2 separate regions of the Homo sapiens genome follow, and region 2 is linked to region 1. The links come from fine-mapping of genetic effects on gene expression. A gene starts in region 1. The other region holds a variant in brackets. All regions are shown on one strand. Distances are from middle to middle. Region 1 holds the start of ADAP1 (ArfGAP with dual PH domains 1). Region 2 overlaps ADAP1 (ArfGAP with dual PH domains 1).

Region 1 (8,700 bases):
GGGGTGGCAGGGCCCTCACAGCAGTCAGAAGGCCCAGGAGGGTCTGCGCAGGGCCAAAGGCACGTCGCAGAGGACAGGGTGGAGGCCACAGCCAGTGGGCTTCCCTGGAGGGGGCCGGCCACATGGGGGCCCAACATCACGACCCCCATCCCCACAGCTGAGGCAGGTAGAGCCAGGAGCTGCCCACCCCTGCGCTGAGCCTGGATGTTGAAGACCCCTGCTTGGCCTGCAGGGCGGCCTACTGAGCTCACGGCCATCGTGCCAGACGCTGTCCAAGCGCAGATAATTTGACTGAATTAGCCCCGGCCCCTGTGCGGGGTGGAGAGGGAAGTGAACCTCCACAACCTCCCCTCCCCTGAGGCAGCTCCTGGTTGAGCAAGCTCGGCTGACTGTTGGGCAAGATGGTCGCAGAGCAGGGCCCAGCCCGGCCTCAGTCCATTTGCCCCTTCCCTGGGGAGAGCCCCCTTCTGCCTGTGCTGAGAGGCTCACCCCGCAGCTGCAGGCCTGGGAGGAGCCAGCTTCCAATCAAAGTCGCCTGCTGGCCTACCACGCGCAGGCCCCGTGCTCAGGCGACGCTGGAGGAGCTCGCCCTGCTCTCGGGAGCCCCCTGCCCAGGGTCTGCTGTGTGGCCGAGTGGTCACAGGAGGCGGCTGCCTCTGGCTCTGGACTAGGGAGATGCTTGAGGAATGAGTGTCAGGGTCCCTGGTGCAGCCGTGCGGGTCAGTGACAAGGGGCAGGAGGCTCAGCAGAGCTTGTAGGCCACTGGGCATGAGCAGGAGCAGGCACGCCGCCTGTCCAGGCCCCTCGCCAGCCGCTGCTGGCCGGAACAGCCTTTGACCAGCACTGGTCTGGGTCTGGCCCACCCTGAGCTATGCTGTTACCTTCCGGATTCTTCCTGAGTCCTGGGCTCCCCTACTGCCCCGCCCAGCCCTGACCACAGCCAGTCAGGGCAGCAGGATTTCAGGACGGCTGTGCTCTCGGGTCCAGGCAGGTACTTGCGGATCTCGGCCGAGCAGCCTCCTCTTTGGAAGAATCCCCCTCAGCCCCGACATCTCTTAGATCTGAGGGGTTCACCCACCTCTGTCTCATCCTCACGCCCTCCTGCCCCCCGAGCAATGCCACAGTTCCCTTAGCGGGATGGAAGGACAGAGAAGGCAAGACACTCGCCTGCTGGAGCTGCCCCACGGAGGAGGCCCCGGAACAGCAGGCAGTAGATGGCCTTGGCTTGTGCCAGAAGCTCTGGCCTGTTGGGCACCGGCTCCCCTGAGGCCTCCCTGCTGCCTTTTCTATGCCTTGTATGATGGCCTCCCCGTCTTTGGGGACCTTGGGTAACGGCTATGTTAGGGTGTGTTGCTTTGTTATATTGTTTTATGTATATTCCAGTCCTGAGGTGTGTGGCCTCCAGCAAGGGATCGAACCTCCCCGTGCCTCAGTCTTCCCAGCTGAAAATGGGGCTTTAATAAGAAAATACATGTCGGCCGGTCGCGGTGGCTCACGCCCATAATACCAGCACTTTGGGAGGCCTAGGCAGGCGGATCACGAGGTCAGGAGATCGAGAGCATCCTGGCTAACACGGTGAAACCCCGTCTCTACTAAAAATACAAAAAAATTAGCCGGGCGTGGTGGCATGCACCTGTGTCCCAGCTGCTGGGGAGGCTGAGGCAGGAGAATGGTGTGAACCCGGGAGGCGGAGCTTGCAGTGAGCCGAGATCGCACCACTGCACTCCAGCCTGGGTGACAGAGCAAGACTCTGTCTCAAAAAAAAAAAAAAGAAAAAAGAAAATACACGTCAAGCCAGGCGTGGTGGCTCAGGCCTGTAATCCCAGCACTTTCAGAGGCTAAGGCAGGCAGATCACGTGAAGTCAGGTGTTCGAGACCAGCCTGGGCAACATGGTGAAACCCTGTCTCTACCAAAAAATAAAAATATACCTGGGCATGGTGGCACCCATTTGTGGTCCCAGCTACTCAGGAGGCTGAGGCAGGAGAATCACCTGACCCCAGGAAGCAGAGGTTGCAGTGAGCTAAGATCGTGCCACTGCACTCCAGCCTGGGCGATAGACCAAAACCCTGTCTCAAAAAAAAAAAAAAAAAAAGGAAAAAAAGAAAAGAAAAGAAAAGAAAATAGAAAATACAAGTCAGGCTATTTCTCCTAATACCTAGTGCTGAGCTGCTGCTATTAATGTTCGTCTGTCTTTATTAGGCGACATTCTCCAAGCTCATGCTGTGTGGTGGATTCCGAGCCTGGCACAGGGACCCAGAGATGAAAATGCCACCTGTCCCCACCCCAAAGCCTCCCGTCTGAGGGAGGAGAAAGACCCATGTGAACGGTTACAGGGAAAGAGCACGTGATGCCACAGGGCACAGATCCCAGAGACACAGACCAAAACGGGCTGCCGCGTTCTGCTTCAGGTAGACAGAGCTTAAGCAGCTCCATGATTCCACGTCAGCTGGAGCAGGGGGACAGGTGCCTTTGGTGGCACTCTGGTCAGTGCAGCCTCAGTGGAGGCCATTCCACATCCCATACCATTGCCCCAGCGATGCCACTTTGAGAGCAAATCCACACAAAACTCTTGCAAAGATGAGGTTGTGTAGACCATGATTCTGATGCATTCAAAACGCTCTAAATGCCCCTATGCCAGTGACTGGGTGAACAAGTCATGGTTCAGTTGAACTTTTTTTGAGTTTGTTTGTTTGGTTTTTTTTTTTTTTTTTTTTTTTTGAAACGGAGTTTCACTCTTGTTGCCCAGGCTGGAGTGCAATGGCGCAATCTCGGCTCGCTGCAACCTCTGCCTGCCAGGTTCATGCGATTCTCCTGCCTCAGCCTCCCAAGTAGCTGGGATTGCAGGCATGCGCCACCACGCCTGGCTAATTTCTTTGTATTTAGTAGAGACGGGGTTTCACCATGTTGCCCAGGCTGGTCTCAAACTCCTGAGCTCAAGTGATCCACCCGCCAGGGTCTCCCAAAGTGCTGGGATTACAGCCGTTAGCCAAAACCCTGTCTCGATAAATGAATAAATAAATGAAAGGCTACAGGCCTCAGACGTTCGTTCTGGAAGGTGCTGAGGAATTTGTTAACAGTGGTTGCCTGGAAGGCAGTGGGGAGAGGCTTTCCTTTTTCAGTCTGGTATGTTCCAGTTTGTTTTCAGCCGGGTGTACTGCATTAACCCTGCAAGAAGAAAATGGAAAGAATTTGAAAAGATGCTGGGGTGTGCAGAGGAAGGGCACGCGAGTCTGGGAAGAGGTGACATCAAAACCAGGTTTTTTGTTACCTGTCAGCCCCCATGTGAAGTCCCGGCGGGGCCCCTCAGCCTGCCTGAGTGGGAGGGGTGCCCAGAGGGTCCCATCTGTGGGTGGTGGGCGGCTGGGTGGGTCTCAGGGGGAGGCTCCGTCTGGGCCCTGTGTGGCCTCAGTGCCCTGGGACGCTGGCGTTTGTCACCTGCTGGCCGTCCCTCCCAGGCAGGGATGGTGTGAGCGCCCTGGTCCTGGTCCGTAGCACAGGACACGCACACCTGCCTTCCACGAGCACCCCCATGCCCATGGTCTTGGGGGGCTCGGCAGGTGCCCTCTGCGCCCCCCACAGTAGGTGTGCAGGCTCCGTCCCACCGCGCGCGGCGGCACGAGGGTCCCACCCAGGCCGGCCAGGTTTTGGGGCGGCCTCGCGCCCAGGCAGGTGGGACGCTGCGCGCGGATGGGGGGCGGGCGGCGGGCGATTTCCCAGCGGGTCCCCGGGGCGCGCGGGCTGGGGGCGCCGGAGCGGCCGAGGGAGGAGGCCACACGCTCGCCTGCACCGCTGGGGGCCGCCCGCGGGCCTTGCCGGCCAGAGCGCAGCGTGCGCCCCGGGCCCCGCGCCGGCACTCGCTCAGCGACCGCGGCGGAGACACGAGCGGCGGCGGCGGAGCCCAGAGGGCGGCGGGAATGCGGAACCGGCGCGCGGGCTGAGGCCGCCCGGGATGGCGCAGGGGCGGCGGCGGCGGGCGGCCTGCGCGGGGCCCTAGCGAGCCGGGCTGACGCTCCCGGCCCCGGCCCCGGCATCGGCATCGCGGGCGCATCGCGGCCATGGCCAAGGAGCGGCGCAGGGCGGTCCTGGAGCTGCTGCAGCGGCCGGGGAACGCGCGCTGCGCGGACTGCGGCGCCCCGGGTAGGTGTGGGCCGGGTGGGCGCGGGGCCGGGTGGGTCCGGGGTGGGCGCGGGGTGCCGGGCGGGTCCTGGGTGGGCCCCGGGGACCGGGCGGGGGAGCGCGGACGCCGCGGGGGTGGCGGCGCTGAACACCGGGCCGGATCGGCGCTCGGATGGGGCCCGGGCCCGGCTGCACCTGCGGGGACCCGGACGTCTTCCCGGGCCGGGCGCAGCGGGGGGGCCCCCCCCAGGACCCCCGGAAACCCCCCTGCCGCCGCCTCCCCTCCCCCGCCGGGCTGCGTGTCTGACGGTCACCGCGGACCGCCCGCCGCGTTGCGAAAGCTCGGGCTCCGCACAGAAAGAGGAAATCGGGGCTGGCTGCAGGGAGGGAACGGGCCGCCAGCCGGAGGTCTCTGCTGGGCTGTGGGGTCCGCCGGCTCCGGGGCCACCTCGCGGTGACGTCATGCCTCACGCCCTTCCCGCACCGGGGGTCCCTGGGTGTGAGCGGCGCCCCTGCCCCCGGCTCCCTGCACCTGGCTGCTCCGGGGCGGGCGCCAGGACAGGTGAGGCCTGGGAGAGGTGGGGCCGGACGCAGGTCCTGGTCCACCCGCCGCCCGCCCGTTCGTTCTCCCGGCCGGGCATCCCTGACTCGGTTCCCAGGTCTGTGGGATTTCAAGGCACTGGAGTCCAAAGGCGCGGAGTCCCTCCCTTCCAGGCCACTGGTCCTGTCATTGGCTGTGAACGGGGCCCAGTGCCCAGACCAGCCCTGCCCTGCTCGGGAGCTGTCAGCCCCAGGCCGGCTGCGCTGTGGAGAGAGGGCCCCGCCGGAGCAGTCCCGCCACCCCAGGCACACCAGGAATCTGGGGGCCAATAGTCTAAGCCCCTCGGAACAAACCTAAACTCACCGGCGGTGACTGAGGCCCCCAGGGAGGGAGCGGGGGAAGACCTTGCATTTGCCTCCAAGGCCCTGGTTCAATATGCAGCCTCTGGACACCCCGGAAAAAGGGGTGTCCCTGATTCCCTCTGGGATGGAGGGGTCTCTGCCAGCCCCAGGTCGTGGTGGCTGCTGTCCAGCTGCAGCTTGGCTGGAAAGGCCACATCAGGAGCTGGGGTGTCCCAGAGGGGAGATAGCGACAGGCTTTTCTGGAAAGACAGGCAGGACCCACGGCCTTTCCATGGTCTCCTGAGACAGGACGGCCACAGGGCCCGTGCAATGGTGCGGTGGGGGTGGCCCCCTGGGCTGGCTCACCCCAGACTCTCTCCCCACAGACCTTTATTTCCTCCTGTTCAGGAACGCTCCCCAGGAAAGCCAGTGGGAAAGGGCCTGGCCTGGGGTTGCTGTGGCCCACGGGGAGGGGAGCTGGGCTTGCCTCTGAACCTCTGCTCCCTGGCCACACAGCCTGGGAGCAGCTTCTCTGGACTCAGGGCCCCTCTCCAGCCACCCTCTGGGCCTCCCAGCCTGGCAGGAGGAAGAGGGGACTTCCTTGGCCTGCTGGGTCCTTCAGTGGTCCTCCCCTCCCAGTGGGTGCAGGTGTGCCCGGCCCACCTGCTAAGCTTCCAGCCTGGCCCACCCCAGAGCTGTTCTCTGCCGTCCCTATGCCCCACGCTGCCGGGTAGAGGGCCGCACCTCTGCCTTTTCAGAATCTGTCCATGACCTCAGTGACTTGTCTCCTCTGTCGGGTAGCGCCATGGAGGGGGGATGCTGTGAGGGGTCACTCTCATTTCACAGCCAGGGAGACTGATGCCTTGCAAAGGGAGCTGTCTTAGGGGACATGAGCCACACCCGGCCGCTCTGCTTGTCCCCGCTCCCCAGGGCTGTGGCCACAGGGTGGAACAGGCGGTGTCAGGAGGCAGGGGGCTGCCTAGCCCCCCATGACCCCATGGCACATCCTCGAGGGCTCTATGCTTCTTTGCTGATGCCAGCTGCTCTGGGGCCTCCTGTACCTGCTGTGGCCCAGCTGGGTGACAAGGAGCCACTCCAGTGTTGATGGGGGCTGGGGTGGCCGGCACGTTCTGCTGTCCTCAGAACACTGTCCTGTGCACTGGCTCACGGCTGGTGCAGACCTGGACAGCAGGACATCAGACAGTCCCAGACCACCTCTGAACGCCAGGCCTGGGGCTGCTGGGGTGGACTTGAGCAGGCCCCACCCACTGGCCGTGTGAGGGAAGCAGTCTTGGGGTCTCTGCGGCCCCCACAGAAGCTCCTTCCAAACTCTCCCCATGACCTGTCCCAATAGTGGGTTCCCCTGACCTTGAACAGGGGGCCTCGCCCGGCGGCCACCCAGAGAGCCTCTCATCACAGGCCTGGCAGGTGGGCGAGTTGGGGCGTGCCTGGACCCACTGTCCTGCAAGACCTGGGTGGGGGTCTCCATCCTGGGAGGGGGTTTGGGGGAGGGAGGGGTGCCTCCGTACATCCTTGGAGCTGCCTGCCAAATCGCAACAGAGGACAGGGACCGGGCGCGGTGGCTCACGCCTGTCATCCCAGTGCTTTGGGAGGCCGAGGCCGGAGGATCGCTTGAGGCCAGGAGTTGGAAGCTGCAGTGAGTCGTGATCACACTCCAGCCTAGGCCAGAGTGAGACCCTGTCTCAAAAAAAAGAAAAACACACATATTGTCCTCTTTGAGTCTCAGGCCATCTGATGCCCCGGAAGGACTGGGGTGTCTGAGCTCTTTTGTTCTTTTTTATTTTAAGGTCTCGCTCTGTCACCCAGGCTGGAGTGCAGTGGCACAATCTCAACTCACTGCAGCCTCTGCCTCCAGGGCTCAAGCAATCCTCCCACCTCAGCCTCCTGAGTAGCTGGGACTACAGGTCCATGCCACCATGCCCAGCTAATTTTTTTTTTTAAGACAGTCTCTCGATGTCACCCAGGCTACAGTGCAGTGGCACGATCTTTGCTCACTGCAACCTCCAACTCCCAGTTTCAGGAATTTGGCCGGCATGGGTGAGGGTGGGAAGAAGGCTGCTGAGTGTGGGCGGGGGCTGGGCAGACTCCCTTCACTCCCCAGGGCAGCGGCCCAACTAGGTTGGATATTTTTTTTTTTTTTTGAGACGGAGTCTCGCTCTGTCGCCCAGGCTGGACTGCAGTGGTGCGATCTCGGCTCACTGCAAGCTCCCCCTCCCAGGTTCACACCATTCTCCTGCCTCAGCCTCCCGAGTAGCTGGGACTACAGGCACCCGCCACCACGCCCGGCTAATTTTTGTATTTTTAGTAGAGATGGGGTTTCACCATGTTAGCCAGGATGGTCTCCGTCTCCTGACCTCGTGATCCACCCGCCTCGGCCTCCCAAAGTGCTGGGATTCCAGGCATGAGCCACCGCGCCTGGCCGGATTTTTTAAAAATAATAATTTACCTTCTCATCGTTTCGAGTGCACAGTTCCAGGGCCTTGAGCACGTTCACTCACCGTGCCACCGCCACCACCATCATCTCCAGAACCTCCTCATCTTCCCAAACTGAAGCTCTGTCCCCATTCAACAAGGGCTCCAGATTTCCTCTCCCCAGTCCGGGGCACCCACCCTTCTACTTTCTGTTCTTTTCTTGTTTTTTTTTTTTTTTTTTTTTTGAGACGGAGTCTTGCTCTGTTCCCAAGGCTGGAATGCAGTGGCGCCATTTCAGCTCACTGCAACCTCTGCCTCCTGGGTTCAAACGATTCTCCTGCCTCAGTCCCCTGAGTAGCTGGGATTACAGGCGCCTGCCACCACGCCCGGCTAATTTTTGTATTTTTGGTAGAGACAGGGTTTCGCCATGTTGGCCAGGCTGGTCTTGAACTCCTGACCTCAGGTCATCCTCCCAACTTGGCCTCCCAAATGGCTGGGATTACAGGCATGAGCCACCGTGCCTGGCCTCAACTTTCTGTCTCTATGAATCTTATGACTCCAGGGACCTTGTAGAAGTGAAACCATGCGGTATTCATTTTTTTTTTTTTTTTTTTTTGAGGCAGAGTCTCATTCTGTCGCCCAGGCTGGAGTGCAGTGGCACCTTCTCAGCTCACTGCAAGCTCCGCCTCCCAGGCTCATGCCATTCTCCTGCCTCAGCCTCCCGAGTAGCTGGGACTACAGGTGCACGCTGCCATGCCCGGCTAAGTTTTCTGTATTTTTAGTAGAGATGGGGTTTCACCACGTTAGCCAGGACGGTCTCGATCTCCTGACCTTGTGATCCGCCTGCCTCGGCCTCCCGAAGTGCTGGGATTACAGGTGTGAGCCACCATGCCCGGCTGGTATTCATTCTTTTGTGACTGGCCAGTTTCACTCAGTCTAACGTCTCCAGGTTCACAGATGCTGTGGCGAGTGCTGGGATTTCCCTGCATGTGAAGACAGGATCATACCCTGTGTGGATGAACCACATTGCGTGTGCCCGTTTGTCTGCAGGCGGACACTGGGCTGCTCCCACCTCTGGGCCATTGTGAATCGTGCTGTGTGAGCACGAGGGTGCAGATGTCTCTCTGAGACCCTGCTTCAGGTTGTTTGGGTCTGTACCCAGGACTGGAGTTGCTGGGTCCCATGGCGATTCTGTGCTTACCTGGTTGAAGAACTGCTAGACAGGTTTCCCCTACCTGGTTTTGCACTCAAGCCACAGGCCAGCAGGT
Region 2 (8,700 bases), 43 kb after region 1:
CGCAGGAGGCACCAGGCACGCCAGCCAGAGGGCCTCGGGCCCCAGAGCCCCGGCTGCAGGGAGGCTGCTGGGATCCCAGGGACCCAGAGGTGCTGAGTCGTATGGCCCTGTGCTCAGGGCCCACTGACACCCACCTGCTCAGGGCAGGGCTCACCCCTCCTTGAAGCCTCCCCTCTACCCTGCCCCTGCAGCCTGGTCAGTAGGCACGAAGGCCTGGCTGCTTCAGACGGCCAAGTGCCTGGGGACCAGCAGGCGGTGACTGTCTGTGCTCCAGGCTGCTGTCTCTGGGTGCTGTGCAGGGCGGGGTTCCAGGGCCCTGTGAGATGCCCTGCCTGTCTCCTTGTGTGTTCAGGGGCTCCAGGGCACCTCTCCCACAGACCTAGCTGCCCGCTGCTATTTGGAACCCTAGGTTCTGCCCTTTGCTGGATGGATGAGGGAGCAGGTGTCCATCTGGTGCTCAGGGTTAGACCTCAGGGACCCCCCGAGCCTCCCCATGGCCCCCACCCTGAGCCCATGTCTGGGTGGGTGCAGCAGCAGGAGAGGACGTGTCCTCCTGTCTGGGGCGGCCCCGTGGGCAGAGCCTCCTCCACAGGGCTCCAGCGCCAGTTGGCAGTTCCCGGGCCTCCCAACCCCTCCCAGAGTGCACTGGGGATTCCCGGCGGCGTTCCTGCCCTGCTCCCTGGCTTTGCCACCAGAGCCCTTTATCACGGCAGTGGCGACACCTCACGACCACAGGGAAATATAGAAGTCCCTGCGGCAGGGCCCGGGAGGAAGGGGAAGCTCGGGGCTTGGGAAGGGCCTGCCACACCCACAACCCCACGTTGGCCAGGTGAGGCCTGGGCCAGGTGGCTCCCGCTCTGCACAGAGGAGTGGCTGCAGGTCTGCCCTGGAATGAGCCGGAACCAAGAACTCCTAGAGGCTGTGCCACGCCCAGTGCCCACAGCCTGCACCTTGGCTGTGGGTGGAAATGGCCGGGTTGTTCTCACAGGGCGGGGGCCCCAGATGTCCTGTGTGTGGGCCACGCCACCCAGGACCATGGCTGAGGAAGGCGGAGCCCCACTCCATCCCTCTGTTAGGCCACCCAAAAGGAAGGATCACCACCGGGCTTTTCTGAAGGAGTTTTTTGTTTGTTTGTTTTTTCCTGCTCTGTTGCCCAGGCTGCGGTGCAATGGTGCGGTCTCAGCTCACCGCAATGTCCACCTCCCGGGTTCCCGCCATTCTCCTGCCTCAGCATCCTGAGTAGCTGGGACTACAGGCGCCCCCCACCACGCCCGGCTAATTTTTATATTTTTAGTAGAGACAGGATTTCATCATGTTGGCCAGGCTGGTCTGGAACTCCTGACCTCAGGTGACCCGCCCGCCTCGGCCTCCCAAAGTGCTGAGATTATAGGCGTGAGCCACCACACCTGGCCTCTGAAGGAGCTTTTAATGGCTAAAGCTGGGGGAGTAATTTGAGCAACAAAAGGAAGATGGTATAAGGGGATTATAACAGGGGAGCAAGGTACACACCCCCAAGTCCATAGACATATACATAAAGAATGGAACAAGTAAAGAGAAAGGGGAGGACCGGGCGCGGTGCCTCACGCCTGTAATCCCAGCACTTTGGGAGGCTGAGGCAGGCGGATCACGAGGTCAGGAGATCAAGACCATCCTGGCTAACACGGTGAAACCCCGTCTCTACTAAAAATACAAAAAAATTAGCTGGGTGTGGTGGCGGGCGCCTGTAGTCCCAGCTACTTGGGAGGCTGAGGCAGGAGAATGGTGTGAACCCAGGAGGTGGAGCTTGCAGTGAGTGGAGATCACGCCACTAAACTCCAGCCTGGGCGACAGAGCGAGACTCCGTCTCAAAAAAAAAAAAAAAAAAAAGGAAGGGGAGGAGGCCAGCAGCCTTTGCACACGAATTCCAGTTAATACAAAAGAAGGCCGGGCACCGGGGCTCATGCCTGTCATTGCAGCACTCTGGGAGGCCGAGGTGGGAGGGTTGCTTGAGCCAGGAGTTCAACACCAGCCTGGGCAACGTGGGGAGACTCCGTCTCAAGACAAAGTTTAATAATTAGCTGGGCATGGAGGCGCCTATGGTCCCAGCTACTCAGGACACTGAGGTGGGAGGATGGTCTGAGCCCAGGAGGTCAAGACTGCAGTGAGCTGTGATTGCACCACTGCACTCCAGTGTGGGCCACAGAGAGACCTTGTCTTAAAACATAAATAAATAGGCCTGGCGTGATAGCTCCAGCTACTCAGGAGGCTGAGACAGGAGAATAGCTTGAACCTGGGAAGCGGAGGTTGCAGGGAGCCGAGATCGCGCCATTGCACTCCAGCCTGGGCAACAGCGAGATTCCGTATCAAAATAAAATAAATGCAAGAGGAGTGAGGGAAGCGGAAACACCTCTCGAGGTGCACGTTGCAGTAACCTGTGGCAGGGAAGCCCCTCTGTGGCCGCTGTGTCTCCCCAAGATGCTCTTTGACGACAAAGGACCGGGGGAGAAGCCCTTGGTGTCGGTGCGTAGCGGAAGGTGCGTCGCTGTGGCCCCAGGTGAACCTCAGCCCGCTGAGCCAGCAGGGCTCCCCCACCCTCTGCGCCGCCTCCCTGGGCCAAGGTCACTGCGTGGGGACGCGCCGCACCCCTCCCCCAGATGTGGGGGTTTATCCTTGTGTCTGAGCCAGACTTGCCCCCCGCCTGCCCCTGGGGGTGACCCTGGTGACAGCTGCTCCCACCGCGGGCTGGCCCCGCCTCGGGCCGCAGCCTCAATGGCGGCTTTCACAGGGGCCTGGACAATGCCTCATGTTGTCCTGAGGGCCAGGCCCTGGTCTCGCTGAGACGCGGGGCTTCCTGCTCTAGGCTCCGGACCCCGTGCTCCTGTCGGAGCTTCTGTGGTTCCCCTGTGGTTCAGGACGGCCCCTCCTGGTGGTACCAGGCAGGGATGGGCCGACCGTTGCCGTAAATGTCACAGGGCAGACGGAGCCCAGGAGGGGGCTGGGGCTGTGCACGAGGTCTGGGGCCTCGGTTTCCCCGTCCATATAGTGGGGACGATGGTGTGCGGCACGAGGGCGCTACTGGGAACATCACCAGCCGTTCCTCGCAGGCAGCGCGAGGCTTTACGTGGCCCATGAGGGGACGGGTGTTTGGGGCCAGGCCAGAGCTGTGGGGCTGCCCCTCGGGGGGACGGGTGTTTGGGGCCTGGCCAGAGGTGGTAGGGCTGCCCCATTGCCCCTCTCTGGGTGGGTGTCGGCTCCTGGCCCTCCGTGGGTCCCCCGCCCCCTTCCTGGCCCTCCGTGGGACCCCCGCCCCCTTCCTGGCCCTCCGTGGGACCCCCGCCCCCTTCCTGGCCCTCCGTGGGACCCCCGCCCCCTTCCTGGCCCTCCGTGGGACCCCCGCCCCCTTCCTGGCCCTCCGTGGGACCCCCGCCCCCTTCCTGGCCCTCCGTGGGACCCCCGCCCCCTTCCTGGCCCTCCGTGGGACCCCCGCCCCCTTCCTGGCCCTCCGTGGGACCCCCGCCCCCTTCCTGGCCCTCCGTGTGATCCCCGCCCCTTTCCTGGCATGTTTGTCTTACAGGAGTCAGGGTTCGCTGTTCTTGGGCGCTGGGGCCCCTGTGTGGGGGCCTCAGGGTTTGGGGCTTGGGGAGGGGGGTACCCTGGGGCTGACTTGGCCCTGAGGGTGGCCCCTCCTGCAGCCTGGGCAGCCTGGCGGGGATGGGGGCATCCACACGTCACTCTGGGCAGGAAGGCGCTGTGGAAACTGTGAACCCGTGTGTGAGTGGGGGGGTCTCTCCAGGCCTGTCGGGGGCCGGGCCCCATGCTGGGGGCTATATGAGAATAGGAACAGGGTGAGAGCTGACCCCAGGAGCCCTCGTCCACCCTCTGGCCTCACCCCTGGGAACAGGGAAGCCTCCCTGTCCTGGCTGTTTGGAGAGAGAGCTCCACGCAGGGCGAAGCTGGGACCTGGAGCCCTCCGCAGGATACGGCCCGCTGGTTCTCAGCCTCTGCCGGCCCCAGACGCACCAACCTGGAGAAGGTGCATTAATGGGTCGGAGAGCGTGGGTGGACGGGCCAGGCAGGGAGAGACGGAGCCCTGTGCGGGCTCACAGAGGAGGCCTTCAACTCTAAGGCCTTACCCAGCAAGGAGACACTGCTCT[G/C]CCGTGGGCTCCGGTGTTTGCCTCCTGAGGGAGGGCAGGAGCCACTAGGACCCAAAGGCCGGAAGCCAGGTCCAGGCCCTTCACAGGGACGGCCGGGGTGCAGTGATCAGGGCCTCGGCCCCGTTCTCAGAGGCCACCCATCCATGGTGCACCCCTCCCTGTGGAAGGCCAGAGGCCCCATGAGATATGGGGATGCAGTTCCCACCCCAGAGGGTCCACCACCCTGTGAGCTGTCACTCAGAGCAGGGCCACGTGCTTCCCTGCCCCAGTTTACAAGACAATTAGCATATAAATCACATACGTGAGGTGTGATTTACATCTACTTTGCATATCCTATTTAGAGTGCAGTCCCAGCTCTGACAAATCCAAGACCCAGCAGTCTCGGGCCAGGCGTGGGGCTCACGCTGCAACCCCAGTATGGTGGGAGGAGAGGCAGGAGGGTCACCTGAGCTCAGAAGTTCGAGACCAGCCTGGGCAACGCAGTGAGCTCCCATCTCTACAAAAAAATACAGAACTTAGCCGGGTGTGGTGGCGTGCATCTGTGGTCCCAGCTACTCGGGAGGCCAAGGCTGGAGGATCACTTGAGCCCGGAAGGTCAAGGCTGCAGTGAGCTGTGATAGTGCCCCTGCACTCCAGCCTGGGTGGGGAAAAAAAAAAAAAAGCCTCGTAAACGGGTGTGGGCTTTATGTGAAGGCTGTTCCTGTTTCCTCGGATTTCACTTCTCTCTGAGGCACGTGATGTGCGCGCTTCACTGTGGTGGAAGAAACGGCCTGGCTGCTTTCCAGGGACTGGGGCACCTTACATCCCCACGGGCAGCGTGGAAGGGCCGGCGTCCCCGCCCACAGTCGGGCGCCTGTGTGTGCACACTGGTTTGGTTTTGCCGTTCTCGTGGGTCATGGCGATGCTGAACGTCTTTCCTGCTCTTAGCCGTGCGGTGGGCAGAAGGGCTCCTCAGAGGCGTCTGAGCAGGGCATGGGGTGTGGACTGGACCCAGCTCCCCACAGGTGGGACAAGACCTGGCACACAGTGGGACCGGCACACAGTAGGGCCTGGTGTGCAGTAGAACCCCCCCCACCCCACACCATAGGACCCGACACACAGCGGGACCAGCTCACAGCAGGGCGCGGCACGCGGTAGCTGTTTGATAAATACTGGTCGAGTCCTGCCCCAGGACTCACGAGTCCTTTAAGAGAAAATGGCCATTTCTGGCCACAGCCCACCCGGCTGTCCAGGACGCTGCCGTGTGAGGGGCTGCTCTGTGGGGAGAAGCCCCGTCTCACTGGCTGTTGCTGGTGCCGACTGGGGGCTGCAGGCCCCTGAGGTCCTGGCCCTCCCCAGCGAGGCCAAGGGGCTGGCCAGGCATGGGGAGAGCAGAGGCTCAGCCTGAGGTCTGGACTGGGCGTGGGGCGCGTCCGGGACCGTGGCCAGCGCCGTCCTGAAATACACTCCTGCGTCGTCATTGCCCCTGGAATGCGGCGTCCTGGCGCCTGCTGTCGGGAGGACCGGGGTTCCCGCTGGCGCCTGCTGTCGGGAGGACCGGGGTTCCCGCTGGCGCCTGCTGTCGGGAGGACCGGGGTTCCCGCTGGCGCCTGCTGTCGGGAGGACCGGGGTTCCCGCTGGCGCCTGCTGTCGGGAGGACCGGGGTTCCCGCTGGCGCCTGCTGTCGGGAGGTCCGGGGTTCCCGCTGGCGCCTGCTGTCGGGAGGACCGGGGTTCCCGCTGGCGCCTGCTGTCGGGAGGTCCGGGGTTCCCGCTGGCGCCTGCTGTCGGGAGGACCGGGGTTCCCGCTGGCGCCTGCTGTCGGGAGGACCGGGGTTCCCGCTGGCGTCTGGACCCCGAGAACACCGGAGCAGCTGCGCGCGTGCAGAGGGGCAGTGGCCTCCCAGACCCCGCGGCCTGCGCGCTTCCGGAGCACTGCTGTCACCTGCTGGGCGCGGCGGGCATGGCAGGGGCGCGTCCCCACCCTGTGGCCTAGGGAGCCCGGTCGCTGGAAGGGGCCCCCGCTGTGTCCTGGGCAGGGGTCTGTGGAACCGACACACTGGACCCAGCCAGCTCCACCCCCGTGGGCGAGGTGGCCCAAACTTGTCGTCTGCATTGGTGACACGGACACGCACGCCTTGGAGGCTCCCCGGGGTGCACACAAGGCCGTGAGCGGCAGAGGCCGGGAAGCGCCGCTGGGCCCGCTGCTGCGATGCCTCCCCGGGCACTTCTCGGCGTCCACCCTCAGCCACGAAGCGCCGCGTCCAAAGAGGTCCTGATGTCGGAGGCAGAGCCGTGGGGACACCCAGCTGTGCCTGGGCAGGGGCTCACTGAGTCAACAGGCGTTCTGAGCAGGCCTTACTTGGGTCTGAGGGACACTGGTGGCCTCGCTCTCACAGTGAGAAGCAGGAGAAGGGGGTTCTTCCATGGGAAGGGGGCTCCTGGCTGCTGCTGTGCGCACGGGGCTGGGGCAGCAGCCTTGTAGAGGCTTGGGGAGCGGGGAGCTCCGGGCAGTGAGGGGAGCAGGCCCCGTCTGGCACCATCCAAGACAGCCCAGGGCCCCCTCCCCGAGGGCACCAGCTGTCCCCTCCCCAACGCCAGGCGTTTTATGGCTTGCATCTCAGCAGAGAAAATAGCCCCTGGTCTCTGGTGTCGGGATGGGGCTGTCTGAGCTGGGGAGGGGATGCTGGGGAGCAGGGGGCTTTGGTGGTCAGGGCTGATGGGCGGTGTCTGCAATCTGAGCCTCTGTCTGGCCTGTTGGCTGCTGCAGGGGGCTGTTTAGCCCCGCCTGGAGCCCACAGCCCCCTCGCGTCCCTGTGGCGTAGGTCAGCAGCCCCTGCCCTCAGATGACCGGGGCTCCCAGGCCACATGGCCAGCAGGATGGGATGCTGTCCCCAAGCAAGTGCTCTCTGAAGTCACTGAGGGGTCACGGACAGGCCCACGGATGCTCAGCAGACGGCCCCACGACCCCGGGAAGGGCCCACGGACACTGGGCAGACGGCCCCGCGACCCCTGGAGGGGCCACGGATGCTCGGCAGACGGCTCCTCGGCAGACGGCCCCGCGACCTCCGGAGAGGCGGCGCCCACTGGGGATGCTTGGCAGACGGCCCCGTGATCCCAGGAGAGTCTGCACCCACTGAGGACCTGCTCGACCCTGGCCACGCAGCTGCTGCCAACGGCGGGACCTGCACGCGACCCAAGGCCTGGCAGACGGAGCCCAGGACACGGATGCTGCAAGCCACATGCTGTTGGGGCGGGACAGCCAGGGCCATAGAAGAAGCTGCATCTGAGTCCGCAGGACACAGAGTTCCAGAGCAGGAGAAAGGACGGGCAACGATAGGAACCACGGACAGGGAGCAGAAGTGGGAGCGGGGCCTGGGGGGGATGGGAACGCCCCTCTGAGTGGCCACACGTGGGTCACTGACCGCAGCTCAGTGACGTGAAGCCACACGTGTTTGTTCTCCCACAGCTCTGGCAGAGCTCCAGGACGATCCCACGGGCCCGAGACTCGGAGTGGGCAGAGCTGGTTCTGGGCTCAGGACGGGTCCTCTGGCCTCTCCCTGGTGCTCCTGGGCTCTGGGGCCCCCTCTGGCCTCAGTTTCCACGGCCACGTCCCCTTCCCTCCTGTCCTCATATCTCTGCCTCCCTCCCCTGTGATCGTCTGCCACAGCAGCGTCCTAACCACCCGTGCACGGTGTGTTTTGCCATAGAAGGTGGCGTGTCCAGGTGCTTAGGCTCCCAGGGGGATGCCCGGGCTACTTTTCTGTGGCTGTGTGTGGTGTGCGTGAGGCCACAGGCGGAGATGAGGGCTTGAGCTGGACTCCCCTCAGATGAGCTTTCCTGAAAAAAGAGGGGATGGCACCACCTGGACCCAGCAGCTGCGGACGGCTGAGGGAGGAGGGAGGAGGCCAGCCTGGTCCTCCCGGGCAGCACGAGGTTGGACCCAGCCCTGCCTCTGCCCATGGTGGCTCTGGCCATGTCCACTCAGGATGGGGAGGGTCCCTGGGGGCCAGTAAAGGACAGCTGGAGTCCCGCTCATCCAGGCCGTCCTCAGGCTGGCTTGGGCCAGGGTTGCAGCCAACAGCGCTGGTCCACTGTCATATCCCCTCACCAACCATCCACCATCACCATCTGACCCATGTCCCCCCATGTCCCCTGTCCCGTCCCCCGTGTCCCCTGTCCCCCATGTCCCCTGTCCATGTCCCCTATGTACTCTGTCCCCCATGTCCCGTCCCCGATGTCCCGTCCCCCATGTCCATGTCCCCCGTGTCCCCTGTCCATGTCCCCTTTCCCGCCCCCTTTCTCCTTTCCCTTTCTCCTTTCTCCTTTCTCCTTTCCCTTTCTCCCTTTCTCCCTTCTCCTTTCTCCTTTCTCCTTTCCCTTTCTCCTTTCCCTTTCTCCCTTTCTCCCTTCTCCTTTCTCCTTTCCCTTTCTCCTTTCTCCTTTCTCCCTTTCTCCTTTCCCTTTCTCCTTTCTCCTTTCTCCTTTCTCCTTTCCCTTTCTCCTTTCTCCTTTCTCCTTTCTCCTTTCCCTTTCTCCCTTTCTCCTTTCCCTTTCTCCTTTCTCCTTTCTCCTTTCTCCTTTCTCTT

What was found.
Region 2: its variant is fine-mapped to the expression of ADAP1 in whole blood (TOPMed, PIP above 0.99).

What each region holds. Positions count from the first base shown.
Region 1 is chr7:949,834-958,533 of GRCh38, reverse strand. It overlaps ADAP1 (ArfGAP with dual PH domains 1), which reads left to right and starts at 3,854. Exons shown (of 11, transcript NM_006869.4): 1 at 3,854-4,138. The coding sequence starts at 4,057. It overlaps LOC124901569 (a long non-coding RNA gene), which reads right to left and starts at 3,680. Exons shown (of 2, transcript XR_007060178.1): 1 at 3,270-3,680; 2 at 3,044-3,166. RefSeq lists silencers at 247-306, 3,548-3,647, 3,503-3,658, 3,678-4,167, 4,458-4,667 and enhancers at 2,961-3,570, 4,793-5,404, 8,334-8,700.
Region 2 is chr7:906,365-915,064 of GRCh38, reverse strand. The region is part of intron 4 of ADAP1 (ArfGAP with dual PH domains 1); the gene reads left to right. Among named protein-coding and RNA genes, the nearest start is that of GET4, 34 kb to the right of the region's middle. RefSeq lists a silencer at 5,931-6,150 and an enhancer at 6,665-7,363. The variant G/C (reference allele first, on the strand shown) is at 4,134.